Linked DNA regions of Homo sapiens. The protein of the gene in region 5 interacts with the protein of the main gene of each other region in a biochemical or structural test. Each region holds a gene or a part of one and is shown on either strand. Other genes may lie near its edges.

Region 1 (4,450 bases), on a different chromosome or scaffold from region 5:
GGCAAAGAGATGAGAAGGGTTTTCTGCCAGAACTGTTCTTTCAGAAATATATTTTCAAGTATGGTTTACAGAATTTGGCATAAGATAAATAGTCTATACTAAATAATTAGTGAGTGAAGTCATATACAATTCATTCTAACATTTGTTGCAAACAAATTGTCATATTTGTTTAGCTGAACAATTACCATGTCAGTACTTCTTTATTGAATATAACGGAATACAATGTACATGTTAAAAGTAAATAGCCTGCTCTTGGACTTGGTCTCAGAGAATAAACTTTTATTTCTGTTTTTACATTTGAAGTATATATATATTATATATATAAAATATAATATATATATTTGGTGATTGATGGTTAAAAAGTCATCAACTTGTATTTCCAAGGAGTCTCTGTTTTACTGCTTTAAGCTCAATAAGCAAAGTTATGATGATATTGAAATGGGTTTTTATAGATGTCAGTAAGTTTTTATTTTAGAAAGTCTTTTTTGAAAGCTAGGAAAACACAATCATTTCTATGAAAGAAATGTTTCCAAAGTTTGAAAATGAAAAGTAATTTCCCTGCAATTACAATTTACTATAGGGTTTTAATTTTTATTTTGGTTATTTTTTATAGGCTTCACAAGTTTTATGAGATTTGCTTAATTGAAAATAAGAACATGATTACCTGACAAAGATGAGGTTCAAAGAAAGCAGTAGGCAAAAGTTCATAAAATTAATGGTAAAATTTTCCTAATGAATGTAGGAATGAGTGTATTTTTCTATTGAACTGGCACAGTTATTTATCTGGTCAGAGACTGGTGTGGGGGAGAACACGCGGCCATCTGGCTGATTCAAGGCTGTTGTATTGATTCAACATTGGATAACATACTGACCATGGTGATTTTACAATGGTTCCTGTAACTGGAGTCCTGGATATTTGTCTCTTTTGAAGTTCACGATCCAAGTCACCGGTCTTTACCCTAGTACAGGAGCAGTTAGCAGTCTCAGCTATACAGTGGTGGAGTCTGGAATTAGTTTTGGTGTAAATCCCAAACATGCCCAACTGAATTGTGGCTCAGGGCGATGTCCTGCTTCATGGCCTAGGGCCAGGGCTGGCAAACTTAACCCATCTGATGTGTTTACTTATTTTAGAAAGCTTTATGACCATTTTTATAAATAAAGTTTTATTTAAACACAGCCATGCCCTTTTGTTTGTATACTGTGGCTGCTCTTGGGAGAGTTGGATAGCTGTGACAGAAACCACATGGCTTGCAAAGCCTAAAATATTTACTCTCTGCCCTTTACATGGGTATTTTACTGTTCTTCTTTGATCTCTCTGCCCAGTACTCAAATTTCCCTTTGGGGCAGTCTGGGTGTCAGCCTTCTTTACTAGCAGGGGGAAGGATGGATATGGTTGGAGATTCACCCTGAACACAGTCACCCTTGCCAGCCCCGCTCTGGGGGACTTAAACTGTCAGCACTTACAATACCACTTGTAGGTTAACTTAGAAGCTTTGTAAAGTGCAAATTGGATCCTCCCTGTCCCCTCCGTCTACATACTTTTGAGGGGAAAATCCATATTCTTTATCCTTACCCTTTTGGGTTTGGCCTGATTCACTTGGTTCCTTTGAGAACTGTATTTCTCGGGCTGGGCGCGGTGGCTCACGCCTGTAATCCCAACACTTTGGGAGGCCGAGGTGGGCGGATCACAAGGTCAGGAGATCGAGACCATCCTGGCTAACACGGTCAAACCCCGTCTCTACTAAAAATACAAAAAAATTAGCCGGGCGTGGTGGCGGGCGCTTGTAGTCTCAGCTACTCGGGAGGCTGAGGCAGGAGAATAGCTTGAATCTGGGAGGCGAAGCTTGCAGTGAGCTGAGATTGCGCCACTGTGCTTCCAACCTGGGCAACAGAACGAGACTCTGTCTCAAAAAAAAAAAGAAAAGAAAAAGAGAACCATATTTCTCTGAACTTGTTATTCCTCCTTTCCAGCCTTAACTTCCTACTCAACACCAAACACACACGTGTATACACACACATACAGAGACACACACACACACACATCTACCCCTAACCATGTTGAATTTTTTAGAAGTCCTAAAAAGTGCCACACCCTGAGCCTTTGCATAAACTCTTCATTTTGTCTGGAACAATCTTTATCTTGCCTCCTTTACACCTGAAAAATTCCTATCTGTCTTTTATATTTCAGCTTTTAATCTAAGGTTGTTCCATGTCACCTTCTCCAACCTCCCAATCCTGGGTTAAATAGCTCGACTGACATCTTTTATTAGCGAAGATAATTTCACTGCTTTAACAGATCAATCCCTCAATTTTTGTGGCCCATCTCTTGTTTGCTTGATACACAAAACAGGCATTCCTGATGGTGTGGGGGAGCTCTGATATGCTCAGCCATTCTGAGAACCTGTAAGATAGGACTATCTCATCTTCAGTATGCTATCGAAGGTTTCCTGCACATCAGTGTTCAGCTGACAGATGAGGGGAGAGAATGGTAGAAGATTGGGTGACAGGTTTTTAAGGGCTATGCCCAGAATCAAAGTATACCATTCTACCCTCATTCCATTAGGCAGAACTCTGACCCTATGTAACTGTGAGGCAAGCTGGGAAGTTTAGTGCCACTGTGTACCCTATCTGTGCTGGACATGTCATGCCCTGCTCTTTTCACAACATTTCTTCATTGTGTGGTAGATTGTAATTTTGTTCCCAATTCTTAAATCTTCCCTGAATCCAAGCCTTTTCCATGTGACATTATAGTTCTACTTCCTAGAGGTAGAGGGTACCTCTTTGCCCCATTGCTGTTGGGCTTGGCCAAGTAACTTGCTTTGGCCAGTGGAATATGGACAGAAGTCACAGGGTATCTGTTTTGGTACAAGTTTTTGGTAGGAGAATGCCTTTAAGGTATTGTACGTTTCTAAAAAAGAATGTAAAAAAGCAAAAAGCTCTTAACATTGCTATATGAAGAACTGCCTAGTTTAACCTGTTGGTCCTAGAAGCTAGATTCACATGGACCAGCACCATCAGGCAAACCTGTGAGCATGAAAACAGATGCTTATTCTTGTATGACACTGTGTTATGCAGCATTGTTGTGGCAATGGCTGACTGGTATAGATGGTATTATAATTGAGTCCAGTTTTGATCTGTGTCTCATTTATGAACTCTTCAAGGGCAAATCCCCTGGTATTAAACCTCCTTGGTTTATAGTAGATTTAAGGATACCTTGTTTCATTGCACTCTGGTTTATTGGTGCTTTATAGATACTGCACTTTCTACAAATTGAAGGTTTGTGCCAACTCCACATCAAGCAATCTGTCAGCACCATTTTTTCAACAGCATGTGCTCATTTCGTGTTTCTGTGTCATATTTTTCATTATTATTATTATATCTGTTATGGTGATGTGTGATCAGTAATCTTTGATGTTACTATTGGAATTGTTTGATGTTACTATTGCAATTGTTTTGGGCTGTCATGAACCACACATATAAGATGGCAAACTTAATTGATAAATGTTGTGTGTGTTCTGACTGCTGTACCAACTAGCCATTCCCTCATGTCTCTCCCTTTCCTCAGGCTCCCCTGTTCCTTGAGACATAACAATATTGAAATCAGGCCAATTAATAACCCTACAGTAGCCTGCAAGTGTTCAAGTTAAAGGAAGAGTTGTACATCTCTCACTTTAAATTGAAAGCCAGAAATAATTAAGTTTGGTACGGAAGGCATGTTGAAAGCTGAGATAGGCCAAAAACTAGACCTCTTGTGCCAAACAGTTCGCCAAACTGTGACTACAAAGGAAAAGCTCTTGAAGGAAATTAAAAGTGCTACTCCAGGAAACACACAAACGATAAGAAAGTGAAACAGCCTTATTACTGATATGGAGAAAGTTTGAGTGGTCTGGATAGAAGATCAAACCAGCCACAACATTCCGTTAAGCCAAAGCCTAATCCAGAGCAAGACTCTTAACTCTCTTAAATTCTGCGAAGGCTGAGAAAAGTGAGGAAGCTGCAGATAAAACGTTTGAAGCTAGCAGGGATTAGTTTGTGAGGCTTAAGGAAAGATGCTGTCTCCATAACATGAAAGTACAAGGTAAAGCGGCAAGTGCTAATGGAAAAGCTGCAGCAAATTATCCAGAAGACCTAGCTAAGATCACTGATGAAGATGACTACACTAAACCGCAGATTTTCAGTGTAGACTAACCTTCAATTGGAAGAAGATGCCATCTAGGACTTTCATAGCTAGAGAAGAAAAGTCAATGCCTGGCTTCAAAGCTTGAAAGGACAGGCTGACTCTCTTTTTTGGAGTTAATGCAGCTGGCGACTTTAAGTTAAGGCTAATGCTCATTTGCCATTCCACAACTTCTAGAGCCCTTAAGAATTATGCTAACTCTACTCTGCTTGTGCTCTAGGAATGGAACCACAAAGCCTGGATGACAGTACATCTGTTTACAGCATGGTTTAC
Region 2 (4,450 bases), on a different chromosome or scaffold from region 5:
AACCAGTGAGCTGAGATCATGCCACTGCACTCTAGCCTGAGTGACAGAGTAAAACCCTCCCTCAAAATAAATAAATAAATAAATAAATAAATAAATAAATAAATAAAAGATTGAAAAAAAATCAGGAAGAGCTATGGGCTTTATTTAGTGTGAATTTTCAGTTTTCTGTTTCTTCCCTCTCATTAGGTCTCTCTGCTGCTCCAGCTCAGTATTACCTGCATGCTGGCCTAGAAGAAAGACTCCCTCTGCTTCTAGGTTGTGTGGGCTGGGTCATCTATTCATACAGATCCTAAATTTGCTCTAAGTCAGGGCCTGGGGGGGATCCTTGGTGGATAGTGTACACGAGACTTTGGACTTGTGCTTGTCACTTACATTTTGGCTCTGTGAGACAGTTTTTCATATTTCCGGATCCTTGTTGAAACTGGAGATCATTATAAATGAGAGGGAGATGATTTTCAGATAAGTGAGGGCCTATTGCATTAGGCAGGGTTCCTGAAAGTGTTTGGTAAATGGATGAGAATAAATGATAGACCTTAACCGCAGAGTCCCAAGACAGCTATTACTCCTTCACATTTCTGTTGTTCATAATGACAATAAACACCTCATCCCATCACTATTTGACCTTCCTCAGAAAGAACCACTGACTGTTAGAGGGAAAAATCATTTGCCACAGGTGAATGACAAATAACTTGTGACTCGCTTTGTGGTTTCTCTCTTTGAGAGATAGAAAATATTACTTTCCTGCTTTTAAGGAACATACATGTTTTAAAAGTTGATATAGAGGGAGTCCTTGCTATCTGAGATTTTATATTGGAAACCTTGCAGTTACAAAGCTTAAAGGGAAGCAAAATTCATCATAAAGAAACAAAGAAAAACATCACCAAAGACAAAATCTTGCTATAAAATTATCCGTCATCAAACATCTGAACCTGACAACTCCTTGTTTCTGCTCACCATCCATGTTTTTCCTCTCCTGTACCTCTGACTCCAGCAGTATGTCCTGCCTGGGATGCCCATCTGCCTGTTCTTCTGTCAGTCCGTCCATCCATCCATCCATCCATCCATCCATCCATCCATCCATTCATTCATTGATTCACTCAGCAGCAGTTATTGAATATCTTCTGTGTGCCAGGATCTGGGCTGTATAGGTATACCCTAGACATGTCTCAGAGTGCAGCTCAAATGCCACCTCTTCCAAGTACCAGATGCGTCCCTGATTCCCTATTCCCTGCCCTACAAAGGTGAAACTGCTCTCCCCCTTCTCTGTGTGTCCATAGCACTTCCTGGGCGCTTTCTAGATATTTAGCATTAGCTCATTAAGAATGCCTGGCAATACGACTTCTCTTTTAGAGGACAGTCCTAAGTTCTGCTAGTGGAGTTGGTGTCTTATTTGTCTCAAGAGGAGAATTGGTGTCTGCTCAGTTCTGCATCTTTCTCCATGATGCTTAGGGCTGACCCAGTTCGTGACCAACAACTAGAGTCTTCTCTTTCTCTTTTTTACATACTCCTTCTCTTCCAGGGCTAAAGTTGCTGCAGCTGATGGGCCCGCCAGGAACCCAACTCAGACCCTCATCCCTGTGCGACACACAGTAAAGATAGACAAAGACACCCTCCTCCAGGACTATGGATTTCACATTTCTGAGAGCCTTCCCCTTACAGTGGTGGCTGTCACAGCAGGTAGGGGATGACTGGGAAATGAGAAAGGAGTTTGGTTTCTTAAGGGGAAATAGCCCCAAATCTCCCCGATCTCTCTATCCTATAACAAAATGCAGAAAATCCTACCTGGGAAGTTAGAAAAGGCACACCTAATTCTGTCTTGGGCTTTGCACCTTACTTTGATGCTGGGAGGGAGGAAGCCTCAAGTGCACTTGCCGCTCCAAACCCCAGGCTCCCACTGGCCTTGGCTAGGGCGTTGCCCACCCTTGGCTCCCTGGCTGGTCTCAGGGGCAGTGAAAGTATTTGGCTAAGCTAGCCTTCCTCTTTGAACCCCACACGCTCCTAGCTGGGGATACTTTCTGGTCAGACAGTAATAGAAACCATTGATTTGTTTTCATTTGAACCTTGTGAAATACAGGCTGTACCAGGGTGGAGAGGAGCAGGTGGGGAAAGTCCAGTGCTTGTTTTCATAATTGAGGTGTGTTAATCTGGGATTCGTTAAAATGTATTGATTTCTATTTACTACACATACACACCAGAGTTTTTTAGAGATGAATGGAGTAGATTTACTGGCCAACTCTATTGATTTAGAAGGTTTCTGCTAGTTTTCTTTCTCAGGACAGTCTTCTAACATCCCTGGAAGTTGGTGATAGATGATAGGTACATTATCCATGGTTTATAAACAGGAAAATTAAGATCCACATGAGCCCAAGCCTGACTGAAGGCGGGGGAGTGAGCCAGTGCCCCTGGGAACTGGATCAGGGTGCCATTTAACTGTGCCGCTATTACACATAGAGTCTGGGTCCTCCCGGCATGAGCACCAATTACTTATTTTCTGTCCAACAGGAGGCTCTGCTCACGGCAAGCTTTTCCCTGGTGATCAGATCCTCCAAATGAACAATGAGCCTGCTGAAGACCTTTCCTGGGAACGAGCAGTCGATATTCTCAGGTACTAAATGGTCTTCCATCATCTACAGAATTGCACAGATTATCAAAGAACAAAGATGGGCAACAGGAATGGCATAACTGATCCCCTGATTTTAATAAGGCTAAGTCTCCTTTAAAGCAGCAAAAACAGCCTCGTTTTAGAGTTCCATCTATTAAAACGGCTTCTTGTTAGTGGCTGTTACAGTCCACTCTCTCTCACTTGCCTACAAAAGAGCTTGGGAGGCACAGAGTGCTGTATTTGTCAAAGCCCTGCTATGCCCAAGACACCGTGCTAAGCATGCAGGGAATGTAATGATCATAAATAACCCACAGGCCCTACCCTCTAAGGATTTATAGGCACGTTGTAACATATGCCAAAGATTGAACTAAATTGATGCCAAATCTGTTCTTCTTTATCCCTCTTGATATATCTTCTTAAATATAATTGCAGGTGCATCTTGGTTGGCATATATGTAGTTTCATTGATGTAGCACCTCCAAACCTTCTGTCTGGTGTCATTGTGACTTATGAAAATGCCTCGCTTTTTACCTAGACAATGATTTCCTGAGACCAGGGCTCAGTGGGTGCTCAGTTAAATGAGTGAATATGGTTAGCGCTGGGAATTGGCAACCCAGACTTTAAGACGGAGGAGTGCCATTGATAGGAGTGAAGAGGACAAGCAGACATTTTAAGGGCACATGAAGCTTTGGCTTTTAAATTTTTCACTCAACATTGTTCTAATGACTAGTATAAAGACAGACGAGAATCAGAGGTAGATGAAAGCTAACTTGAAGAGATATATATATATATATAAAATTCAGTTTGTGATTTTTCATGAATGGCTGATCTGGCTTTGGGGTGGTATTAATTGTTTTTTTTTCCCTTTTTTTTTGAGATGGGGACTTGCTGTGTTGCCTAGGCTGGTCTCAAACTCTTGGGCTCAAGTGGTCTTCCCATCCCAGCTACTCGGGTGGCTGAGGCAGGAGAATCGCTTGAACCCGGGAGGCAGAGGTTGCAATGGGCCACGATTGTACCACTGCACTCCAGCCTGGGTGACAGAACAAGACTCCATCTCAAAAAAAGAGAGAAAGAAAAAGAAAAGAAAAGCCAAGGAAATACACTGTAAATGCTGGAGAGTCCTCCAACTTGGGCAGAAGTTGTAGGCTGACAAAACAGAGAAGGGCCCAGAAATATTTCAGTTGTGTCTTTAATGCTGGGTAAAATTTGGTCCAAAAGATGGAGGTGAAGGGTGATTCAGGCAAAGAGGTAAACAGAAGCAACTGGGTGGGAAGTAGGGGCTGCTGAGCAGTTCAGTTTGCCTGCAGAAAAGTTCTAGGAAGTGAAGTCCAGATGATAGAAGGTCTTGAATGCCAGCACAGCATGTTTCAGTGTGATTCTCCCCCTGGAAGGGCGAGCAGTTGAAGGCTTCTGAGCAGGGATGCATGACTTGAGGTGTGCTGTGCATCTGTACCCTCTGCTGTCTTTTGCATGTGAGAATCCCAGGACGCCTTACTTTTTTTAAGCTTAGTTCCCAGTGTCTAAAACCAGCATGTATTATTCAGTGTCACGTGTAAAAGGTAAAACACAAAGCAAAACAAAAAGATACAACAACAATGCCAAGAAAACATCTCAAATTCCTCCAAATAGCTATGAGGCCAGTATGTCCTTTTAGAGCACTTGCATTTGGGTTTATTGTGATTTATCTCAGAAAAGGCCTGTTCTCATTTAAAATGGAAAAGAGGAAGTCCCTAGACACTTAGACATCTTGGGTTGAGTTTATCCTTTTGAGGAAATAACACACCAGCAGCAATTGGCCTAAATGTTCATATTGCAAGAAGTCAAATGAAATTATTTTGCCAACTGCTTC
Region 3 (4,450 bases), on a different chromosome or scaffold from region 5:
CCCAGGAGGTGTGGCCTTCCTGAGATTCCATGGGGAATTCCCGGGATGGAGTTGCAGTGGCATTCTGTGTGGTTACACTGAAGATGGGGCCTCCAGACTGTAACATTCTGTGGTATTATCGGGGCTCAGGGTTTGGGAACTGGCCCCCGCACCTGCACCCTGCCTTCTGGAGGTATGACATCAACTACAGAACCCTAAGCCCTGCCCCATTTCCCAGCTGAGTTTGCTCATCCAGGCAGGGTTGTCGGCTACCTCACTCTCTCCACATCTGCCAGGTAGCACAAAGCACCTGGCACTAAGATGCTTTTGAGTGGGTGCATTTATCCTGCCCTTCAGCCTGGCAGTGTCTCTGGGATGCTGCTGTGTCTTAGCTGCTGCATCTCCCTTTTCTCCTGGAGTCTGAAAAGTGCTCCATAGCTTTGCAGGGTGCAGGGGTTATAAGAGGCTAATCAAGGTTACAAATAGCCTGCAGTTTTTTGTTTGTTTGTTTGTTTTTAGACAGAGTCTCGCTCTCACCCAGGCTGGAGTGCAGTGGCATAATCTTAGCTCACTACAACCTCCACCTCCTGGGTTCAATCAAGAGTTCAAGCGATTCTCCTGCTTCAGCCTCCCGAGTAGCTGAGACTACAGGCACATGCCACCATGTCCAGCTAATTTTTTTTGTAATTTTGGTACAGACGGGGTTTCACCATGTTGGCCAGGCTGACCTCAGGTGATCTGCCTGCCTCAGCCTCCCAAAGTGCTGGGATTACAGGCATGAGCCACCACACCTGGCCACCCTTTTTTTTTTTTTTTTTAAGACCGAGTCTCCCTCTGTCACCCAGGCTGGAGTGCAGTGGTGCAATCTCAGCTCACGGCAACCTCTGCCTCCTGGGTTCAAGCAATTCTCCTGCCTCAGCCTCCCAAGTAGCTGGGACTACAGGCGCCCACCACCAGGCATGGCTAATTTTTGTATTTTTAGTAGAGACAGGGTTTCACCATATTGGCCAGGCTGATCTCGAACTCCTGACCTTGTGATCCACCCACCTTGGCCTCCCAAAGTGCTGGGATTACAGGCGTGAGCCACCACGCCCAGCAGATGCCTGCAAATTTTTAAGAGACAGAGTCTCCCTCTGTCACCCACGCTGGAGTTCAGTGGTGAGCGATCATAGTTTATTGTAACCTCAAACTCCTAGGCTGGAGTGACCCTCTCACCTGCCTCCTGAGTAGCTAGAACTACAGCCATGCACCACCACACCCTGCCAAATATTTTTATTTTTGTAGAAACAGGGTCTGGGCTCCTTTGCCTGGGCTGGCCTCAAACTCCTGGCCTCAAGCAATTCTCCTACCTCAGCCTCCCAAAGTGCTGGGATTATAGGCATGAGCCACCATGTCCAACAGCCTCCAAACCTTAATGGCTCAGAACAACAAAAGTTTCTCATTCATGCAACGTCCAATACAGTGCTCCTTAATCATCTCTCCTCCTCTCCATGCCCTGCATTCAGTCAGTCAACAAGCAGAGAGTGTGCAGGATCACAAGGATGGTTGCTAGAGGCAGACCTGGAAGGAGCATACATTGCTTCCACCCTCATTCAGTTGGCCAGAGCTAGTCCCAAGGCTGCAGTCAGACACAAAGCTCTAAGCAATGTGGTAGTCATGTGCCGGAAAGAGGAACTAGGCTTGGTTAGCAGCTGGTACTGGCCGTAGCGAATGAAAAACACAATGACGGCTTCTGTTGAATACTCCCGGGTGACTCTTCCCCAAGGACTGGCCTTTCCTCAGGACCACCTTCCTTATGCTCACCCCCCACCTCCACTATCCAATCAGATCACACCAGGCAGCAAGGCAGCCCAGTCCCAGCTCAGCCAGGGTGACCTCGTGGTGGCCATTGACGGCGTCAACACAGACACCATGACCCACCTGGAAGCCCAGAACAAGATCAAGTCTGCCAGCTACAACTTGAGCCTCACCCTGCAGAAGTAGGTGGGAGCTCTCCAGAGCAGGGGGCGGAGGTTTGGGTGTGGGCATGGGGCAGGGGCCAAAAGAGGGATTGTCCCATAGCAATTGAGTGGGCCCCGCCCTGGGCTACAAAACTGTGCAGGAAGATAAGGACAGCCCTGGGCCAGAGGAATGAACAGGCCCAAGTCGCTGTCAAGCACCTAGAGGCAGACATTACTGCCTCACTTTACAGTTAAGGCAGAGATGGTGGTCCTGGTGCTGCCCGTACGTGGGCCATTGGTCCTGGAAGGCAGGTCTTACCTACTTCCACTTTGCCCAGGCAGCCCCCAGTGACGTAGCAGGGGCCCATGGATTCTGACCAAAATGCCCAGGGGCCATGATTTCTCCATCCTCGTCGGGCCCAGGGCCTTCTTGGGGAGATCCAGCCCATGGGGTGGACAGTGGATCTGGGGCCCTCTGACTCAGCTATCTCTGAGAGCTGACTCTGGCTCTCTCTTGCTCTCTCCTCACCAGCCCTGCCCAGGCAGGAGCTTCTGGCCCCAGGGGCAACTTCCTCACCTGGTCTCATTTCTGGTTTCTACAGATCAAAGCGTCCCATTCCCATCTCCACGACAGCACCTCCAGTCCAGACCCCTCTGCCGGTGATCCCTCACCAGAAGGTAGGTGCTGACTGTGGCGGCGGGGTCCACTCAGCCCTGGTTCCTGGAGTGCTGGCCCTGGCCAGCCTGCCTGGTCTTTGGCTGGCCCAACTGGGATGAGGCCGTGGGATCAGCCCTGCCCCATCCCTGCCCCTGCTGCAGCTGACCCTGGGGAAGTGAGGCAGCCCCTTGGGAGAGACTTTCAAGCCCCTGTTGAACACTGGATGTGGGAATGAATGCCTGCCTGGGTGCAAGCCACCTCCGCTATGCCTCGTGGCTGGGCTGATAGGAAGCCAGCTTGGGCAGCAGTGTTCCCAGGAGAGGGGTCACCCTCCTGGCCAGGCAGGGGACGAGCGTCCAGGCTCTGACCTTCATTTGCCAAGGGGGCCACCGCTGGGTGACTGTGGCTGAGGCCCAGCTTGACGAGGACCTCCAGGTGTGGAGGGGCCTGCTGGCCTCACCCAGATCTCTCCCTCTGGTTTCCACTTCCCCACCTGCCCCTCCCAAGTGCATTCCCCTGTAGCCCTTAGGACGTGCTGGCAATGGCAGGCACAGGGGAGAAGGGAGGCCAAGCCCTGGCTCCAGACCTCACCACTGCCTAGGCCCTTCCCAAGGCCCCGCCAAGCAGCTCAACCCCCGAGGGCTCCCTGCTCAACTTCTCCCCCTATGTGAACTGATAGTGACCCCACCTGTCCAATGGGGCAGATTGGGCAGGGCAGTGGGGAGAGGGGAGAAAAAGAGGCTGACAGGGGTGGGGTAGGTCACAGACTGGGGAAGTGGGTGGAGGGCTGCTTGGGAGATGCTTGCAGAGGTAGACTGAGGGGCCCAAATGTGAGCTACCCAATTCCTCAGCTTCCCTCCTCACCTCCCCACCACCTGCCCACAACCAGCCCAGGAACTTCATCTCACTGGCAGTGTGGGGTCAGTGGAGCAGGAGGCTGGGCTGTGCCCACTGGGCACCCACTCTCAGGGGCAGGGGGAACAGACACAGAACGGGCCATCCCCTGACCCCTACACCCACTTCCTCGGGCCCTGGGGGCAGGAAGCTTGGCTTGGCTTCCATGCAGGGCTTGGCACTCTGCCCAGCTGGATGCCAGCCTCACGCCAGGCCAGGAGCCATGTGCCTGCCTGCTCCTCCACCAGTGTCCTCCCCTCCAAGTGCTGCGCCCAGGCGCTCTGGGCTTCAGGCTGCGGGGCTCGCGCTAACACATCTGTTTCAGGTCCACGCAGGAGCGCTGGGACGCGTGTGGCCTCTAACCGCTCTCTTCTCTCTCCCCTGCATGGCCTGCCCTGTGCCAGGACCCCGCTCTGGACACGAACGGCAGCCTGGTGGCACCCAGCCCCAGCCCTGAGGCGAGGGCCAGCCCAGGCACCCCAGGCACCCCGGAGCTCAGGCCCACCTTTAGCCCTGCCTTCTCCCGGCCCTCCGCCTTCTCCTCACTCGCCGAGGCCTCTGACCCTGGCCCTCCGCGGGCCAGCCTGAGGGCCAAGACCAGCCCAGAGGGGGCCCGGGACCTACTCGGCCCAAAAGCCCTGCCGGGCTCGAGCCAGCCGAGGCAATATAACAACCCCATTGGCCTGTACTCGGCAGAGACCCTGAGGGAGATGGCTCAGATGTACCAGATGAGCCTCCGAGGGAAGGCCTCGGGTGTCGGACTCCCAGGAGGGTAGGTAACGGACATACAGCTCTCCACAGGTGGCCTGGGCCACCTGGGTCCTCGGTGCTCGGCAGAGACCTGGTCAGGTGGTCAGAGCGAGGCACTGGCCCCAATCCAGCCAGCCCCGAGCCCATGAGGTCAGCAGTGATCCTGCGGCATTTGCCATGAGCCGGGCATGCTAGCGATTTATACAACCAACCACGCTGGGGTGACATG
Region 4 (4,450 bases), on a different chromosome or scaffold from region 5:
GCTAAAATGGAGGTATTTTAAGACACTCCTGAGGGGAGCGGGAGTGGCCGCCTTCGTGGTTGGTCACAGGACACGTAGCCTCTGCAGTCCAAAGGGACACAACCCAAAAAAGCGTGTGAGCCTGCGAACCGAAGGACCAGGGCAGACGCTGACTAAAGCAGCACATCGGCTGGGGAAGCCAGGCTTCGGGACCCCACACTAGAAGAAGCCACAGGAGAGATGACATCCTTCAGATCTGCCTCCAGCAAAGCAAGAATATGACGTCCTGGACAACTTCTCAGCCTTTGTCTCTAGCATCTGGCCACAAATCTGTGAAAACTGCTATGGAAATGGATAGAGAAGAAGAAAATTGTCAGTCCCACAGACTAGCGCTTTAGATGCTCTCGTGTGCAAGCCTGTGGTTTTGTTCTTGGGGAAAGCCATTCAAGTATTTCTGAGTATGATACGGCAGATCCCACCTTTGGAAACTAGTGAGACTAAAGATGTCATTATCTGGCCGGGCATGGTGGCTCATGCTTGTAATCCCGGCACTTTGGGAGGCTAAGGCAGGCGAATCACTTGAGGTCAGGATTCACCTTATCTCGTATTTCATATTTACAAATTTCATGAGTACAGGTTTTCTGTTCATTTTGTTTTCCTGTGTCTTTAAGCTCAAGCATTAGAAAACAATATAGCAAGACTGATTTCTTTGAGTAAGGTTATTACAGAACAAGCATTTGAATAATAAAGAATTTTTTTTTTTTTAACAGGGTCTAGCTCTGTCACCCAGGCTGGAGTGCAGTGTCACAATCTCTGCTCACTGCAATCTCTGCCTCCCAGGTTCAAGTGAATCTGGTGTCTCAGCCTCCTAAGCAGCCCAAGGTGGGTGGACCACCTGAGGTCAGGAGTTAGAGACCAGCCTGGCCAACATGGTGAAACCCCGTCTCTACTAAAAATATGTTAGCTGGGCATTGTGGTGCATGCCTGTAATCCCAGCTACTCAGGAGGCTGAGGCAGGAGAGTCACTTGAACCCAGGAGGCGGAGGTTGCAGTGAGCCAGGACCACACCACTGCACTCCAGCCTGGGGTCAGAGAAGGCTCCATCTAAAAAAAAAAAAAAAAAAAAAAAAAAAAAACATATAAAATGTTCATTATATGGCAAAATTTATAAGCAAATTCAAAAGTAAGTGATTAGAAGATATTTACAATATATTTAATAAACAAAGGGTTGATATCCAGAATAGGCAGGGTACCGTGGCTCACACCTGTAATCCCAGCACTTTGGAGACCAAGGTGGGCAGATCACTTGAGCCCAGGAGTTCAAGACCGGTCTGGGCCACATGACGAGACTCCACCTCTACAAAAAATACAGAAATTACTCGGGTGTGGCGGCACGCACCTATAGTCCCAGCTACTCAGGAGCTGAGGTGGGAGAATCATTTGAGCCCAGGAGGTCGAGGCTGTGGTGAGCCATGGTTGTGCCACAGCACTCCAGCCTGGGTGACAGAGGGAGACCTTGTCTCAAAAAAAAACAATCAATCAATCAATCAATCAATCCAGAATATATGAAGAACTATATAATTCAGTAAGAAAAATACAAGAGAGAAAGTTTGGGTAAAGAAAGCAATAGCAAATGGACAGAAGTTAAAACCTAGGTGGCCAAGAAACACAGGAAGATGCTCAAACTTAAATGTATTGGATGAAAATTAGAAATATTATAAATCATTCTTTTAATCTATCAAGTTGGCCAAAAATAAAAAATCTCATACTATGATGTGTTGGCAAGGATGTGGAGAAAGGAAAACACATTTTTTTTCTCGTGCAAGTATCTACTGGTTAATCTTTAAGGAAAATTTTAGCAGTGCTTACGAAAATGGAAGCTATGAAACAATTTAAATTTCTATCTGTAGCAGAATAAAATATATTCATCTAAAGGAAAGCTAAATAGCAGTTGAAAAAATAAATTACACCTCTCTCTATATACTAACTGGGACCGGCTCAAAAACAGTGTTGAATGAAAAAAAGCCAAATGCAGATTGTGCACTGTGTGACACCAATTCATGGTAAGCATAAGGAACCTAAGAATGTGTTCAACAAAAGCTATGCAAGACCTTTTTGGGAAAAAGCATAAAAGCTTTCTAAAGGACAATTTTAAAAAATCTATGAGTAAATGGAGAGAGAGACATATCCTGCTCAAATCTGTTAAGATTCAGTTTGGCCTCATGTAATAGGAAATCCAAAATAGCAGTGGTTTAAACGAGAGAATTTATTTCTCTCTTGTGTAAAAAGTCCAAAAGCTGGCAAACCTCTGCTTTGTACAACACTGAATGTTTCCTAAAGGAGCAGTCCCCAAGCTTTTTGGCACCAGGGACTGGTTTTGTGGAAGACAATTTTTCCATGGTGAGGGTTTGGGTGGGGGATGGTTTCAGGATGATTCAGGTGCATTACATTTATTGTATACTTTATTTCTGTTATTACATTTTAATATATAATGAAATAATTATACAACTCACCATCACGTAGAATCTGTGGGAGCCCTGAGCTTGTTTTCTTGCAACCAGGCATCCCATCTGGGGGTGATGGGAGACAATGACAGATCATCAGGCATTAGATTCTCATAAGGAACATGCAACCTAGATCCCTCGCATATGCAGTTCACAATAGGGTTCACACTCACGTGAGAATCTAATGCTGCTGCTGATCTGACAGGAGGCAGAGCTCAGGTGGTAGTGTGAGTGACGGTGAGAGGCTGTGAACAGAGGAAGCTTTGCTCACTCACCCACTGCTCACCTGCTGTGCAGCCCTCCTGCCACCAGTCTGTGGCCCAAGGGTTGAGGACCCCTGTCCTAGAAGACTTTCCTCTACTTCATCTCATTCAGTCCTTCTAACAACCTAGTAAGATAACAAGACAGATATCATCATCACCATTTTGCAGATGAGAAAACTGGAGTTTGGAGAAATCTGTAACTTGCCTGAAGTCACAGATTTGAGACCAAACCCAGTCTGATTGCTCCTTCAGTGTGCGTCAGGCTGTTCTGGTTGCCTGGAACCTCCCATGTCCTGAAGCCCAGGTGAACACTCACAAAATTCTTTTGTTTCACATAACCTGAAGGCCTTCGGTTAATATGCTAGAATAGGACATTGGGTACTAAGTTAACACAAATATAATTGGTTCTTTGGTCCTTCCAAAAATGTATCTATCTCAAGAAAAGCAAGGACTAGGGACCAAATCATTTTCCTGGGGCCCACTACAGGGCTGATATTGGTGAGGTCTCTCTTCTAATGTAACTAACTGCCTCTATCATTTACCACAGAAAATGTTTTTGTCCTTGTGTGGGCTGGATTTCTTCCAAGCTGTATTTTTATCACATAATATTTATTTCAATAATTTCAATAACGACTTTCAGTAATTTAGGATGAAATCGATACATCTGCTCAGTCTTTTGAGGTCTAATCAAAATTTCTGAGAAAATTTTTTTCACACTTGGGACTTTTTCTTTCAATGCCATTTTTTTTCCATAAGATGCCTCCATAGCTGGTGTACCTTTAGAAGTATATGTGTGAGAACGTAAATGGAGGGTTTACACTTGCATTTTTTTCAAAGCTCATACAAAGCTAGACAAAGCTATAATGTGAACATGCTAAACTCTGTAAGTAAGTAGTCCCCATGGTCACTAATGAGCACATAATCACTGATTCTCAGAACTTGCATATATCAGCCAGAATCTGTTAACAATTAGAAGCTGACAGCCTGGGCAACATGGCAAGACCCCATCTCTACCAAAAATATAAAAAAAAAAGCTGTGCATGGTGGTGTATGCCTGTGGTAGCAGCTACTCTGAAGGCTGAGGTGAGAGGATCGCTTGAGCCCAGTGAGGCGGAGGCTGCAGCGAGCCAAAACTGTACCACTGCACTCCAGCCTGGGTGACAGTGTGAGGCCGTCTCAACAACAACAAAAAAAGTTGAACCTGCTTTTCTGTGTTTACTGGCTGTTTGGAGTTCAGCTGTTGATTTCCTTACCCCAACTTTATTTTGTGTTATTCTTGTTGACTTGTAGCTCTTTAGTCTGGATGTTAACCATTTGTTGATTAAATACATAGAGAGTATCTTCCCCTTGTCAGTTTATTTTTATCTTACAGATTATGTTTGGAGGGGCGGCAGGAGGGCTAGAGTTGCACTGTTTTCTGTAGACCAGTTTACTTTTATGGATATATGCTTTTTGTGTTCTAAGAAATATTTCTCTATTCAATAATATATTATTTAGATATTTTTATCACTTAAAAGTTTTTAGTTTACTTAGGATTTTTGAATACTATGAAACTGCCAAGCTATTAATTATTCTGTGTTTATTCTCGTAGGTGGTGCGGCTGAACAAGCTGGAATAATAGAAGCTGGAGATGAAATTCTTGCTATTAATGGGAAACCTCTGGTTGGGCTCATGCACTTTGATGCCTGGAATATTATGAAGTCT
Region 5 (4,923 bases):
ACCCTGGCCCCAGTAGAGTCAGCCTTGAGATGACTGCAAAATGACCCCAGAAAAGACCAAGAGAAAAAAAAATGCCCAGGTGAACCCAGCTCAAGTTGATGACCTACAGAATCATAAGAAATAATGTGGTTTAAGAAGTCTGATGTTTTAGGTCACTAAATTTTGGGGTTCTTTATTCTGGAGTAATACATAGATACAAATCTCAAAATAACTTCAAGGTATGAAGTACTATGCACTTGAAAAGTGAGGAAACAGAATCGTAAAATATATGAGTAACTTACTGGAGCCAGTTAAGTGACAAAACTACTGTTTGAATCTAGGTTGTCAGACTCCAGAACTTTTAACTATGCCCCTACAGTAGATAAGAAAAATGACCAAAACTGACAGATTAGCAATGAGGTCATTATACAGGGAAAAATGAATGACTTTGGGGTCTTAAAAAAGTGGAGAGAGCTGCATGAGAATTTGATCGCCAGATTTTGAAATAAAGTCATGTGACTATGCTTGGTACACTAAAGAGGTAATACTGCCTAACAGAGTTAAGGGGGATCATTTGAAGACACTAGCATAGAGTGACACCCCCTCATCCTCCCCACCCCGCCAAAGCCACTAAGAAAGATATAATACCCTGCCTCTCACCTGACAGAAGGTGGTGTTCCTGAGATTCATAATTGAACTGGATCTCCATGGGCTGCAACTGGACACCTCAGTGTGCAAGTGGAGAATTACCATTTCCTCTGTAAGCTTTTCTTGTCCACATAAAGGTCTGGGACCTGGAGGCAACTGGGCACCACTGGGCTTGGAAGGGAATCATTGTGCTGACTACAGATGTAATCTCTGAGACTAGACCACCAGAAAAATCCTCAAGATATAAAAGAAGGAGAAAACAAAAAATCTCATTTGACTTCCAGTTGCTTTTCTCTCAGAATGTATTAGGCTTCCTCCCCATCATCCAAGAGCCAGGGATTAACCCACTTAAGACACACATTCCCCATTCCAAGTCTAGAGATGTTCAAACAAAATTAGGGGTTAATGCTACCAAAAAAAGGTATAACTGGAAAGATAACGCAGAGAGGGGAATTTTACAGTGAATTCTAGTGGTTAACACTATGTTATTCGCTGCCCTTCCTATCCAAAAATGACACTACTGATCATTTTTCTTCCTTTTGCTTTTACAACATTCACAAATTCAGGTGGCTCTTTCCCAGTACGGTAGGCTGATTCGTATGGATGCACCACGGTTGGTGACTCCCCCCACCCCACAGAGTTTCTGGCGTTCATTCGGTTGAACCCAAGGCCAGCAAGGGCTGACTGGGAACAAACCGAACACTAGGCCGTGAACCAATCGTCTCTCCGTGCCCGGGAGCGACCCCGGGGGCCTTCACTCTCCAAGGACTCGAGAAACCATGCACAGTTTCCTGCTCGTTAGGCAAGATCACCCGGAACTCCTCTGCTATCCGCGAGCCGACATCACCCTTACCTCGACTTGGTCACCGGACCGCTGTGAAGCCTCACACCCGGCGAACCTGCCATCGCCCTGTCCGCTCTAGGAATCTGGGAGGAGTGCTCAGCTCTATGGCGCTTCACCGCGCAGGCGCAGGGCGGGGGTGGGGCACCGGGTGACGGAGGGCTGCCGAGAATTAACCCCCGAACCGCCGCGAGCTGTCCCTAGCAGTGCCTTAGCCAGGGACCTGCTTGGCCAGCGACAGATCCTTTGCTGCTCTGTCTGCCGGTTCTTGAGGTGAATGTCGGAATCCATTATCTTTCGGGAAAGCTCTCTGGGGCAGGGTAGGTTTTCTTACTACATACAAGTTCTTAATTAGTTATCGTTTTTTAAATAACCACCCCTCCCCCTATCGCTTATCTGATTCGTAGGTATGCTTTAATTCTAACTTTCTTCCTGTCCTCTCTGGTTTTTCACACCCCCAGAAGAGTAGCGCGCATCAGAATCACCTGGAGGCCTTGTTAAAATACTGACTTCTGCCCCACAACTCCGGAGTTGCTGATTTAGTAGTGGGGGAGGGGGCGGTGGCAGCCCAGGTTCTCAGGTGATCCTGAAGCTGTTGGTCCTGGGACCACATTTTGAGAACCACTGCCCAAGAAATAAGTGATGCTCAGTAATTAATCCCTGAATTAACGGAAAGTTGGATTTTTATCTACTTTGCAATCTAGAAAGGGTACGAGGTCTATTTAAGGTTTGCTTGCTAGAACAATTCTCACTGATCAGGGTGAGAAGGACCCGAAATGGAGGGTGCGGGGTAATCAGGGTAGGAAAGGATATTGCTGTGTTCATGGAAATATCTTGGGAAATGAGGAGTTGGGACCTCATTTCTGTTGAGACCAATGAGACGTGTGACTTGGTTTAAGCTGTCCGGTGGGGAAAGGAAGAGGTTTGAGAAAATGGTGGGTGGCTAAGTGGTAGTTGAGGTGGAGGAAGAGGGCTTCCTGTCCCAGCCCAAGTCCCTGTTGGGATATATGAAATTTAGGGATGTATGACTAAGCCCTTAATATAACCGTAAGAGGAAAGAGATGTGGGAACTTGAGTCCAACCCTCCCAAGTAGGGAGTGCAGATAGTTTTAAAAAAACAGCTTTCTTTTTGGCCAGGCGCAGCTTAGGCCTGTAATCCTAAAACTTTGGGAGGTTGAGGCAGGTGGATCACCTGAGATCAGGAGTTGGAGACCAGCCTGGCCAACAAGGTGAAACCCTGTCTCTACTACAAATACAAAAATTAGCTGGGCATGGTGGTGTGCGCCTTTAATCCCAGCTACTTGGGAGGCCGAGTCAGGAGAATCGCGTGAACCCATGAACCCAGGAGGCGGAGGTTGCAGTGAGCCGAGATTGCGCCACTGCACTCCAGCCTGGGTGACAAAGCGAGACTTTGTCTCAAAACAAAACAAAACAAAACAAAACAAAACAGCTTTATTGAGGTATAACTGACATAAACAGCAAATATTTAAAGGATATAATTTGATAAGGCTTGTTAAATGAATACAGCTGTGGAACTATCACTGCAATCAAAATAATATGTTTATTACATCTAAACCCCAAAAGTTTCCTCCTGCCCGTTGGTAAGCCTCTCTCCCAATGCCCCCTCCACTGGTCAGCTGTTACTAGAGATTAGTTTGCATTTTCTAGATATTTATTTAAATGGAATCATACAGAATGTCCTTGTTTTTGTCAGAGTTGTTTCACTAAGCTTTTATTTTGAGATTTATCTTTATTGCTGTGTGTATCAATAGTTAATTTTTGTTGCTGAATAATATTCCATTGTATGTATATACCACAGTTTGTTTATCCAATCACCAGTTCATGGGCATTTGGGTTATTCCAGGTTTTTACTGTTACAAGTAAAGCTGAGAACATTCATGTACACACGTCTTTATATGGACATATGCTTTTTTCCCCCTCTCTCATGGTAGATGTACATTTAATGTTTAAAAAAACCCACACTACTTTTCAGAGTGGCTGTATCATTTTGCATTCCTAACATGAGTACATGAGAGTTCCGGTTCCTCCACATCCTTACCAACTCACTGTGTATCTCACTGTGGTTTCAATTTGCATTTCCATACTGACTAATAATATTTAGCATTTTGTAATGTGCTTATATGCCATCTGTATATATTCTTTGGTGAAGTATCTGTACAAATCTTTCGTCCATTCTGGACACTAGTCTTTTGTCAAATATATGCTTTGTGGCCAGGTGCCATGGCCCAAGCGTGTAATTCCTGCACTTTTTGTAGGCCAAGGTGGGTGGATTGCTTGAGTCTAGGAGCTGGAGACCAGCCTGGGCAACGCGGTGACACCCTTTCTCCACCCAGAATACAAAAAATTGTCGGATGTGGTGGTGTGTGCCTGTGGTCCCAGCTACTTGGGAGGCTGAGGTGGGAGGATTGCTTGAGCCTGGAAGGTGGAGCTTGCAGTGGGTGGTGATCATGCCACGGTACTCCAGCCTGGGCAACAGAGCAGGACCCTGTTGCAAAAAAAAAAAAAAAGAAGAGGAAGAAGATATATGCTTTGCAAATATATTGTGCCTTCAGTTTTCTTTCTGTTAATATTTTTTGAATAGCATCAGTTTTAAGTTTTGATGAAGCACAGTTTATCAATTGGCTCTTTTATGGATCATGCTTTTTGTATGATATTTGAGAAATCTTTGCCTAAAATAAGTTCACCAAGATTTCCTCCAGGATTTTTAGGTTTTACATTTTGGTCTCTGATCCATCTGGAATTAATTTGTTTCTACCCATACAACTCTGAGATTTAGGGTAAAGTTAATTTTTTTTTTTTTTTTTTTTTGGTATGTGGATATTCAGTTGTTCTGTACCATTTCTTTCTCCTCTGAGTTTCCTTTAAGCTTTGTAAAATCAGTTATCCATATATGTGTGGGTCTATTTCTGGCCTCTCTATTTTTTCATTGATCTACTTGTCTCTTTAGTCCAACACCACACTTAATTACTCTAGCTTTATAATAAGGCTTGAAATCAGGTAGTGTGAGACCTCTAATTTTGTTGTTTTGGTTATTCTAAGCCCATTGCATTTCCATATCAATTTCTGAATCAGTTTGTCAACTTCTACAAAGAAGCTATCTGAGATTTTGATTGGGATTGGATTGAATCTGTAGATCAATATGGGGAGAATTGACATGTTAAAGCAATATTGAGTCATCTGATCCATGAACACAATATTTTTCTCAATTTATTTAGGTCTTCCTTAATATCTCTCACCAATATTTTATAGTTCTTTTTAATATTTTACAGATCTTTCATAACTTTTGACAGATCTATTCCTAAGTATTTAATATATTTTGATGCTATTGTATTTTTCCTTTAATTTCAGATTGTTTGTTGGTAATATAATAGAGAAATACAATTGATTTTTGTATATTAATCTTGTATCTTGCAACTTTGTTAAATTCATTTATT
Region 6 (4,450 bases), on a different chromosome or scaffold from region 5:
TTTATCATCTGATGTGTGCACAAAGAGATAAAAATACTTTTAAAAGTACTTCCAAGTTTATCTTTAATTGTACATTATCAAGAGTAAAATTTTGGCAAAATATATTTATCAATCAGTGCTAAAAGAACATTCATAGATGGTAAGAGTGATTAGTCCTCCTACCTCTTATCCACCATGTATTGAAATAAATTTTCACTACTTACGATGTTTACACGTTGACCAAAAATGTCTACATTTGAAATTAGTTTCCACATGTTACATATCATAGATTCTAGATAAGTGTATTGAAATTGAAAAAAAATCTAGCTATTATAAATTTTTAAAGACATTAATTTTTATGTTATCTGACCTGTTTCTCTTTCCCTTTCAGGAGTTGGAATTTTCTAATTTATTTGCTGTTCTTCACTGCATTCATTCCTTCTTTGCTGCCAAGGTAGCTTGTTTGGACCCTCTATTTTTAGGCAATCAAGCTACTGCTTCTACTGCTGCCAGCTCTGCTACCACGAGCAAAGCAAAGTATACAACTTGACATACTGAACTCTTCATTGACACACCCCATGACTGTATAAGCAGGACACATTTACTCATCATTTTAGACCCTAGAGAAACCATAACATCACCAAGTCGACAGTGGAGGCAAATCAAAATTTCGGCAGAAAAAGAAGGTCATGTGGAACCTCAAAAACACTTCTATTCTGGATGACATCTGTGAAATATACTACATGAACAGAACAGCTTGTTCTCACTCAGTTGCTTTGTACCAGTAAGTGTATTGCTTTCACCAAAAGTGGAGACAAAAGAATAAATTATTTGAAGAAGTATGTAAATAACATAAAAATAGTAAGCTACCTATGAATAAAAATACTTATTAAATGATTACTTCTGTATTTTAGATTATTTTGTATGACTAGTACATGTTGGGCAGAGTCATAGGAAAACAAATGCCCTATCTTGTATTATGAGGGACATAAAAGAGTTAAAAACCATAAATCAGCAAGGAGCATGCAAAAAAATCTCATCAAAGAAGGATGCACTTTAATTTGCTGATGTAAATTTGCCCTTGTGTTCTCATCCCATGATTTGACACTGGCATTCCAATTGTTTTTATCTTATTGTAAATATTCCGAAGAACTTCCAAAGGATAATTACATTGACCCATGATAGATACAATGTGAAATGGACTATTCTCCCTTGGATCACTGTTATTGAAATGTCTTATTAGCTGCCAAAGTCAATCAAATATGCCAACAGTGTATTAATTTAATTATGAGTGATGGAAAATTTCATGAACCTCTCATTTCTTCCTTGGTTTGAAAGAGATTTGTATTTTACCTAATAAGATTTATTATCAAATTAAAGTTTCATAAATTTTCAGTGAACCCAAAACCTTTTGTAGAGAAAATAATATAAACAAATATGGTGTGAGAAACAATTCTTTGTAATCCGAAGTCTACTAGTTAATCATGAACTAAAATGTCCCCCGAAAACAGTCCCAAAGCTATTATAGATGTTAATTAAATGACATTTTTTCATTTTAGTACTATTTTATGAGAAACAAAGGTGATATTTAAAGATAAAAGTTAAAATTCTTTAACCTCCCTTGTCATGGAAAGTGATTAAGTAATGCCAACTATGCAGGTTGTTTTAGGTATTTTGTCCTAAGAATGTAAATGTGAAAGGCTGGGAAATTTGAAAGCCTTAGAGGTGTGCAATTTACTCAGATTCCAGGTATTATTCAACTAGTTGTATAACATGGAACACAGTCTCTGTCCTTCAGTACAGCTTTTTTGAGATATTTTAAAAAGTCAGCTGTGTATGTAAAAAAAAAAAAAAATTTTTATTGATACACATGCTCCCAGGTAAACCAAGTATTATGTGTGTCCTTGTGGAGATAACCAAGTATCTAATAAATTGATTCAATTTTTTTTTTCAAATATGTTTTTAAAAATCACTCAAGAAGGAAACAAAGTGATTTCTATAAAGGACAGATTTACTAATTTAAAAAATTAATATCAAGTTGTTTTTATACTCATGATTCATTAATTTATTTTGCATCAGATTAATTTGTAAATACATCAAATTGAAAAGAAAAAGTGAGGGTTTATAATTGTCCCTGGGAAAATGTTAAACTGAATCTAACATACCTTACCCAAAGAACTGTGGCAAATTACAATAAACAGTTTCAGTGTAATGTATTTTGACCGTAAAACTAAGTACACATTTGTAATTAGGATAGAACTTTAGAATTATTGCACACTATATTGATCAAATACAACAGTCATTGTAAAATTGAAACCCACCAAAAGCAGCCTTCAGTAGTAGGCCACTTCTGAACTTATGGAGAAAAAGCAGTGGGATACATCGAACTTAGAATTTTCAGCTGTGGCAAGTGGTTCATTATGGAACTTCTGCTTCCAACCAGAGCTGAATCTCAGTGTGCCCCATATTGGGGTTACATGAATGTGTCCACAATCTGGAAGGCAATATGACATGGGCTAATTATCCATAAGCAAAAGAAAAACGTTTCAACAGTTTACCTACCTGTAATAGAATGATTTAAAAATTGTGAAATTTTGTAAACGTTCCATTTTAGAATTTAAAAAACCTATTAACCATTAGCTATCTTTTTAGTGTTATTATGAAAATTTAGCCTATGCTCATGTGTGTTACGAAGGAAAAGGTGCACAATGAGATATGTATAAATATATATCTCCTCAGAGAATACACACACACCTACATATGTATTTATATGCATACATGGGTGTATATATATATAAATATAATGAAATGCTGACCATTAATTATATTAGAAGAATGTTTTGTGTACATACATTTAATATACTTTAAATTACGTTGTAAAATGTAGCTTGATTAAAAACTTATGACAATACCATTATGAATATTTTTGATACTATTGATAAAAAACATAAGCCGTGATTTTTATTTAACATGATTAGTACAACAGCCAAAAAGTAACAAAATACTATTCTCGTTTTCATCAGTTTAACAATTAGTATTTAATGTTTTCTTTACAATGTGGTGATTAGTCATTGGCATTTGTTATAACTTGGACTACTTGAATGAGAAAGCTTTGAAATGAACAAAAACACTTAAAAATTTCTATCTCTCATATAATTTAGGTTTACATGTAAGAGATTTATTCATAAAATCCTAGTTTGTACATTAAGCACATTTTAACAGCAAAATGCTAATGTGTTAACCCCTCCAGTGCCTTGGTATGTGTGAGCGTGTATGTGTGTTTGGGTGTGTGTCTGTGTATGTGTGTGAGTGTGTAAGTGTTATCATTAAAGGGTTCATTACAGTGTACATAACACAAGCTTAATGGAGAATATTGTAGGTATTTAGGTCAGAGAATGAAGTTCAAAGTCATTTGAAAACTGCTAACTACTATAATAATGTCTTTTGCCTGATAAAGAATAACAATTCATCTAAGTCGAAGTATATTACAGAAAGGGCATTTATAATTTGTTAAAATGCAACAAGTATTTATTTAAAAAATAGTTTAATAGATAGTGTAAGTGTAATGTATATCTGAACACTTATCCAGCTTTTTTAAAATGGGAGGATAATCAGGTAATTATTTCTTGCCCATATTTCAGGCATGTACCAACTTATAATTTTGAAATCTTCGCTCATAAAGCTGTCATTCAGCAAGAAAAAGAAAGCAATTACTTGAAAATAAATGTCAAGTCCATATTAGCCATGCAAAGAGAGAAATTTTCCTTTGGGTGCATTAGTTTATAGATCAACATTTCCCTCATTTACAGTGCTGAAGCTTGATCATGAACTTTGTCTATGTTGAATGCTGGATTTAAGAAAAGCTTGATTTATTACTGAGAAAAATTAATAATCCTAACGATAATTTAGAATTACTGCTAGAAATCAGCAGTGTGGAGAAGCTTTAAAAGCACAAGGATGATCTTGTGCTTAACTTTTTAAGGTAAGTGTAGATGTTCGGATACTAATAACAAAGATTTTGCTACTATTAATATTGCTGTGCTCATAATTTCTCCTTATGAAATTGCTTTATTCATACTTCTAAAATTGTTCTTTATTGTTTATTCTTACTACCGAATACTTTAAAATCATAATGCCACTTATTTGCACATTTGAATTTGCTTTTGAAAATAAAATATTATAAATGTTATATATTTTATACATGTTAAAATGCAGTGAAAAGACAAGAAATATAAAATGTAAATATATTTATTTCATTTTTAATTGTTTTGGTGGATGTTTGTAAAATGTAAATTAATATCTGTGACAAAAATTTGTCACTTCATTCTTTCAGTTCATTAATGTACTACTAATGAAACCATACTTTTTTAAATGAAGCATACTGGAAAATAAAAACAAATACTTTTTACTAGATTTGGGTTTTCATTTCTTTGGGTTTGATTTGTAAGGATTTTACATATGTTTAAAACAA
Region 7 (4,450 bases), on a different chromosome or scaffold from region 5:
CTGCACATTAGTTCATAAAACATTTATTGAGCACCAATTATGTACAAGGCACTGTGCTAGTTGCTGTGGATAATACAAAAGATGAAGGAGGCTTCCTGTCCTTCTCCTTCTCAGTCATCTTTGAATTTACAGTGCCTAGTGCATAGAAGAGATACTTAATAAATATTTGTTGACTACTCAAATGAATGACTTCATGAATAAGTGAAGGGATGAAGTTCAGACTGGAAAAAACTTGAGCAAGTACGTAGGGTGGCTGTGTCATAGAGAAATAGGGCAGGAATGGAAGATAAGGCTAGGAAGATAGAGTGGGTATAGTGGATGACTATTATTATTATTATTATTATTTTTAGAGACAGGGTCTCACTCCGTTGCCCAGATGAGTACAGTGGCATGATCATGGCTCACTGTAGCCTCAAACTCCTGGGCTCAAGTGATCCTCCCACCTTAGCCTCTCGAGTTGCTAGCTAATTTTTAGTGTTTCATAGAGACAGGGTCTTGTTGTGTTGCCTAACCTGGTCTCCAATTCCTGGGCTCAAGCAATCCTCCCACTTCAGCCTCCCAAAGCACTGGGATGACAGGCATGAGCCACTGTGCCCAGCCTGTCTTTACTTTTTCTTATAAATATTTTCAACCTCAAAAAAATTAGAGAAAATAGTATAGTAACCCCCACATACTCATTATCCACATTAACTAGTTATCAGGACTTTGCCATGTTTGCTTCACCTATCATGCCAAACATCGATCACATCATTTTATTCCTAATATTTCTCTATGCATTTCTTAAAAACTGGACATTTTCTAACATAACTACAGAACTGCTAATACACCTAACAAAAGTAACAATAATGCCTTTGTATTATCCATTACCCTGTCCATAATCATATGCCCTCAATTGTCTCAAAACATGTTTTACAGTTGGCTTGTTTGACGGACGTTCCAAAAAAGTTCCACACGTGACATTTGGTTGTTATGTCTCTAAAGGCCCTTTCAACAGCCCTCTCTCTTTGACTTGTCACAGAAATCAGGTTGTTTGCTCTGCACAATTCCCACATTCTGGTTTGTCCTCTTATTGCCAGTTAGCTTGTTCACCTATCCCCTATATTTTCTATAAATGGAAGTTAGCTCTGGGCTTGATTAGATTCAAGCTCATTTTTCTTTTTTTCTCGCTTTGGCATAATGATTAAAACAAGATCATTCTGGAGGCAGGAAGACCAGTTAGCCGGTTGTTACCATAGCTGGTTGGGGACAGAAAGAAGATGGGTGAATGTATTTGGAGGTAGAGGAAACCTGATTTACCTACCAATTGAATGCGTGGGGTGAGGAAGAAGGAAGAGTCAAAGATGATTCTAAGGCTTTGAGCCTGCATAACCAGGAGGGTACCAATGTCATCCTATGAGAAGGATGAGTTTTTAATGAGAGCAGCAGGTATCATGGTTAGATTAAAGGAGGAACTTTCTCACTTTCTCACAGTAAGAGGCCATCTGCTCTGTTTTTTTTTTCCAGATAATACTATCTTTCCCAGAAAAAAATTTGATTCGTGGTATAGCTAAACATTTGATAATGTTTGGAAAACATTTGGAAAGGGACTCCGTATTTTTTGTTAACTGCAAATAGTTAAATTTCCAGCTCCAGGGCCTTGAGAGGGAGGATAGTATATACAATTCTGGATAGAGAGAAGGTAATGCTGATATCTCCCTTGCAGATGAGCCTACTGTCCCATATCATCATGGGTTTCTGAGTCATCAGGCTTGGGTAGGAGAGTGTAGGATGCCAGAACCTGGGATTTCTCTAGACACAGCCAATGAGCATAGCTCAAGATCCATGTCTTTCCTTGATATTGGCTGAAGTCTCTATCCCACACCCACTCTTCCACCCAATATGGAGGCTGTGTGGACCCTCAGTGGACCATGGCAACAGTGTTCTTGCCAAAGTCAAAAATTGCCTAAAAGCCCTGGGATATTCACTGGACTCTGACAAAGCCCCAAGATTATTTCGACACCTCAGTAGGAACTTGCTTAACTCGTTGAATTGGATTAGGTGAGAACTACTCTCAGCTCCATCCCATCATACCCTCCTTCATAAAGGCTTTTCTCTCTCTTCCTTCCCCTAGCTCATCTTTCTTCTTGCTTTTTCTTCTGCTCCCCCCTCCCTGCTCTTTCTCTTCCAGCGTACATTTATTCTCTCAAGTTAATCAAACACTGGCCCCTACAGCCCATTGTGCCTCAGATTGATCACTTAAGTAGCGTTATTGATTGCCCAGAAAACCTTAGGAGGTGGGAGTGTTCTGAAAGCTAGGATCTGACAGCTGATTGGCTGCCTATGTCTCACTCGGCAGCCTCAGCTCCTCTGCCGTCTGGAACATCTTTTGAGAAAGGTGAGGGAATGAACAGCGGAGATCCTTAGCGGGCTTCACTTATCTCATCCTTCCTTCATACTGGAGTTAAGGCATGGGAAGAGAAGTCTATTGACCACTCCAGGATCTAGCCCTGTACTAATGTTATGGTGAGAAGGGGAAAGCAAAGGCCCTGCTCTCTGGAAATCCGTAATTTAACAGAAAAATAATACTCATTCATATGAAGTAACTAAGAATAATACAAGATGGAAAACAATTATGTGCCACATTTTTTTGCTCTAAACAGTAAGCACTGTAGGGGTTCAAAGCACAGAGAGAATGAGAGTGTGGGCTGGAATGAGGGGAGAAGTCTTCCCAGAAGAAGTTGAACCTGCGTTATGTTTTGAGTAACATGTGAGATTGAGATTGTTGACTAGAAAAGGAACAGGCTTCTGAGGGGGAGGCACAGCATAGGGAAAAGGCTGGAGATGGAAATGGTCAGGGTGTTATCAAGAAAGGGTCAGAAAGAAGTCTGACTAGAGGAGAGGGTGTATATGCAGGCACAGTGGGGAAAAAATGATTGGCTGGGTATGGGACTCCCAGATTTGAAGAGTCTCTGATGTCAGAAGAAGTTTGGACTTGGGTAAACCTTGGGGGCTGTCGGACAATTATGCATAGTGATTCAGGATGGTTAGCTATGCAGTTGGAAGCAGAATTGATTGGAATAGGGAGAGACTTGAGACCAGCCTATAAGATACTACAGCAATCTAAGTGAGAGGTGATAAGGGTGGTGGCAGTGGGCATAGAGAGGAGGGTCAAATCCAAAAGGCTCTCAAGGCATCGGTGTGGCTGATAAACCACCAAGTAGATTTTCTTGACTTGTTTTTGTCTCACTCGCTCCTTCCTCTTAGCCTCAATACTTACACTTTCTTTGCCTCATGCCCTCAGGACCTTAAGGTGGCAGAGTTTCTGGAGCTAAGATAACATTGGGCATTATAATCAGTTATCCTTTCCAAGTAAAGTAGATGCGCACAGGGGCCTTCAGTACCATGACCTGAAAGAGTGAGCAATGAGGAATCTGGCTGCAGAATGCAGTTGAGATGATAGCCAAGCTGGGGTGCTGAGTATTACATCCCCCAACAGGGAGGCCGGAGGCAGGCGATGCCTGTGTCTGGTCTGTTTCAAGTCCCCCAAGGCTTCTGAGAGCTGGTAAGAGTGAGGAAACATCTTTCAACTTCCCTGGTAGAATCAGTTTGAAAACTCTTCTGAGCACTTGGGAATCATCTCAGTGAAGGTCACACCTGTGCCAGAGTATGGCAAGAGCTACCACAGCACTTTGATGCCAGCTGGAGCCCTGTTGCAGCTGGTATAAGGAAACTAAGTGAGGAGTCCACAGGTTGATGGGAGAGTCATGGCCAGGGCCTCTGCCTGCTAAATTGCCTCCCCCACCAACTTTCCCCTCCCCACCCAATCCACTGAATATCAGCCCTGGATAGGTGTCTGGGCCAGGTCTGCCAGCCCTGGATTGGAGGGAAATAGAGAACTGCAGATAAAGGGATATTTGTGAGATTTTAGTCTCCTTTTACTTGTTCTTCTTGTGGGAGCATATGATGCCTTGTAAAGATGAATGAGTACAGTAGTTCTGCTCAGGCTGTGGGCTCCTAACTGCCAAGGGAGCTCTGCTCTGAGGGCAGGACCACCCAATCAAACAGGCTTCTCCTTGCTTCTGATCCAAACCCACTGGGAAAACAGAGGAACAGATGGCTAGATTGGTGGATGAACACACGTGTGTGTGCGTGCGTGCACGCAAGCATACATACACACACACACACACACACACACACACACACACACACACACACACACTCTGCATAGTCTGTCAATCAGCGGCCTCCAGCACTTCCCTGCTAAAGATTTCTGTTTTGATTTCTGTAAAGTCTTCTGATTGCAGATTTGAGGCAGGGGTGGTGGTTGGTGGCTAAGAAGTAGGCAGGTGTCCAGAGTGGAAAATGCTTATGCAGGTGAAGGATTGAGAAGAGAGAATGCAAGTCACTGACTAGGGTAGTTTGTATGTTTACTACCCTTCTGATGGAAAAACCCATTTAAGGCAGAAAGAAG

What was found.
Region 1: the proteins of ZSCAN30 (region 5) and FRMPD4 interact in a test that uses a peptide from one of them, tested with the Homo sapiens proteins (one large-scale study listed by IntAct).
Region 2: the proteins of ZSCAN30 (region 5) and FRMPD1 interact in a test that uses a peptide from one of them, tested with the Homo sapiens proteins (one large-scale study listed by IntAct).
Region 3: the proteins of ZSCAN30 (region 5) and LDB3 interact in a test that uses a peptide from one of them, tested with the Homo sapiens proteins (one large-scale study listed by IntAct).
Region 4: the proteins of ZSCAN30 (region 5) and PDZD2 interact in a test that uses a peptide from one of them, tested with the Homo sapiens proteins (one large-scale study listed by IntAct).
Region 6: the proteins of ZSCAN30 (region 5) and SNTG1 interact in a test that uses a peptide from one of them, tested with the Homo sapiens proteins (one large-scale study listed by IntAct).
Region 7: the proteins of ZSCAN30 (region 5) and FRMPD3 interact in a test that uses a peptide from one of them, tested with the Homo sapiens proteins (one large-scale study listed by IntAct).

Annotation. Positions count from the first base shown.
Region 1 is NC_000023.11:12,144,457-12,148,906, forward strand, and holds part of FRMPD4 (FERM and PDZ domain-containing protein 4), read left to right. Parts: intron 1-4,450. UniProt on the Homo sapiens protein: Positive regulator of dendritic spine morphogenesis and density. Required for the maintenance of excitatory synaptic transmission. Binds phosphatidylinositol 4,5-bisphosphate.
Region 2 is NC_000009.12:37,705,897-37,710,346, forward strand, and holds part of FRMPD1 (FERM and PDZ domain-containing protein 1), read left to right. Parts: intron 1-1,519; coding exon 1,520-1,677; intron 1,678-2,502; coding exon 2,503-2,605; intron 2,606-4,450. UniProt on the Homo sapiens protein: Stabilizes membrane-bound GPSM1, and thereby promotes its interaction with GNAI1.
Region 3 is NC_000010.11:86,677,561-86,682,010, forward strand, and holds part of LDB3 (LIM domain-binding protein 3), read left to right. Parts: intron 1-1,806; coding exon 1,807-1,958; intron 1,959-2,521; coding exon 2,522-2,597; intron 2,598-3,875; coding exon 3,876-4,243; intron 4,244-4,450. UniProt on the Homo sapiens protein: May function as an adapter in striated muscle to couple protein kinase C-mediated signaling via its LIM domains to the cytoskeleton.
Region 4 is NC_000005.10:32,103,632-32,108,081, forward strand, and holds part of PDZD2 (PDZ domain-containing protein 2), read left to right. Parts: exon of another isoform or gene 1-1,084; intron 1,085-2,492; exon of another isoform or gene 2,493-2,549; intron 2,550-2,656; exon of another isoform or gene 2,657-4,337; coding exon 4,338-4,450.
Region 5 is NC_000018.10:35,286,949-35,291,871, reverse strand, and holds the start of ZSCAN30 (zinc finger and SCAN domain-containing protein 30), read left to right. Parts: upstream 1-1,642; 5' UTR 1,643-1,745; coding exon of another isoform or gene 1,746-1,788; intron 1,789-4,923. UniProt on the Homo sapiens protein: May be involved in transcriptional regulation.
Region 6 is NC_000008.11:50,792,301-50,796,750, forward strand, and holds the end of SNTG1 (gamma-1-syntrophin), read left to right. Parts: intron 1-370; coding exon 371-529; 3' UTR 530-4,392; downstream 4,393-4,450. UniProt on the Homo sapiens protein: Adapter protein that binds to and probably organizes the subcellular localization of a variety of proteins. May link various receptors to the actin cytoskeleton and the dystrophin glycoprotein complex.
Region 7 is NC_000023.11:107,455,735-107,460,184, forward strand, and holds part of FRMPD3 (FERM and PDZ domain-containing protein 3), read left to right. Parts: intron 1-4,450.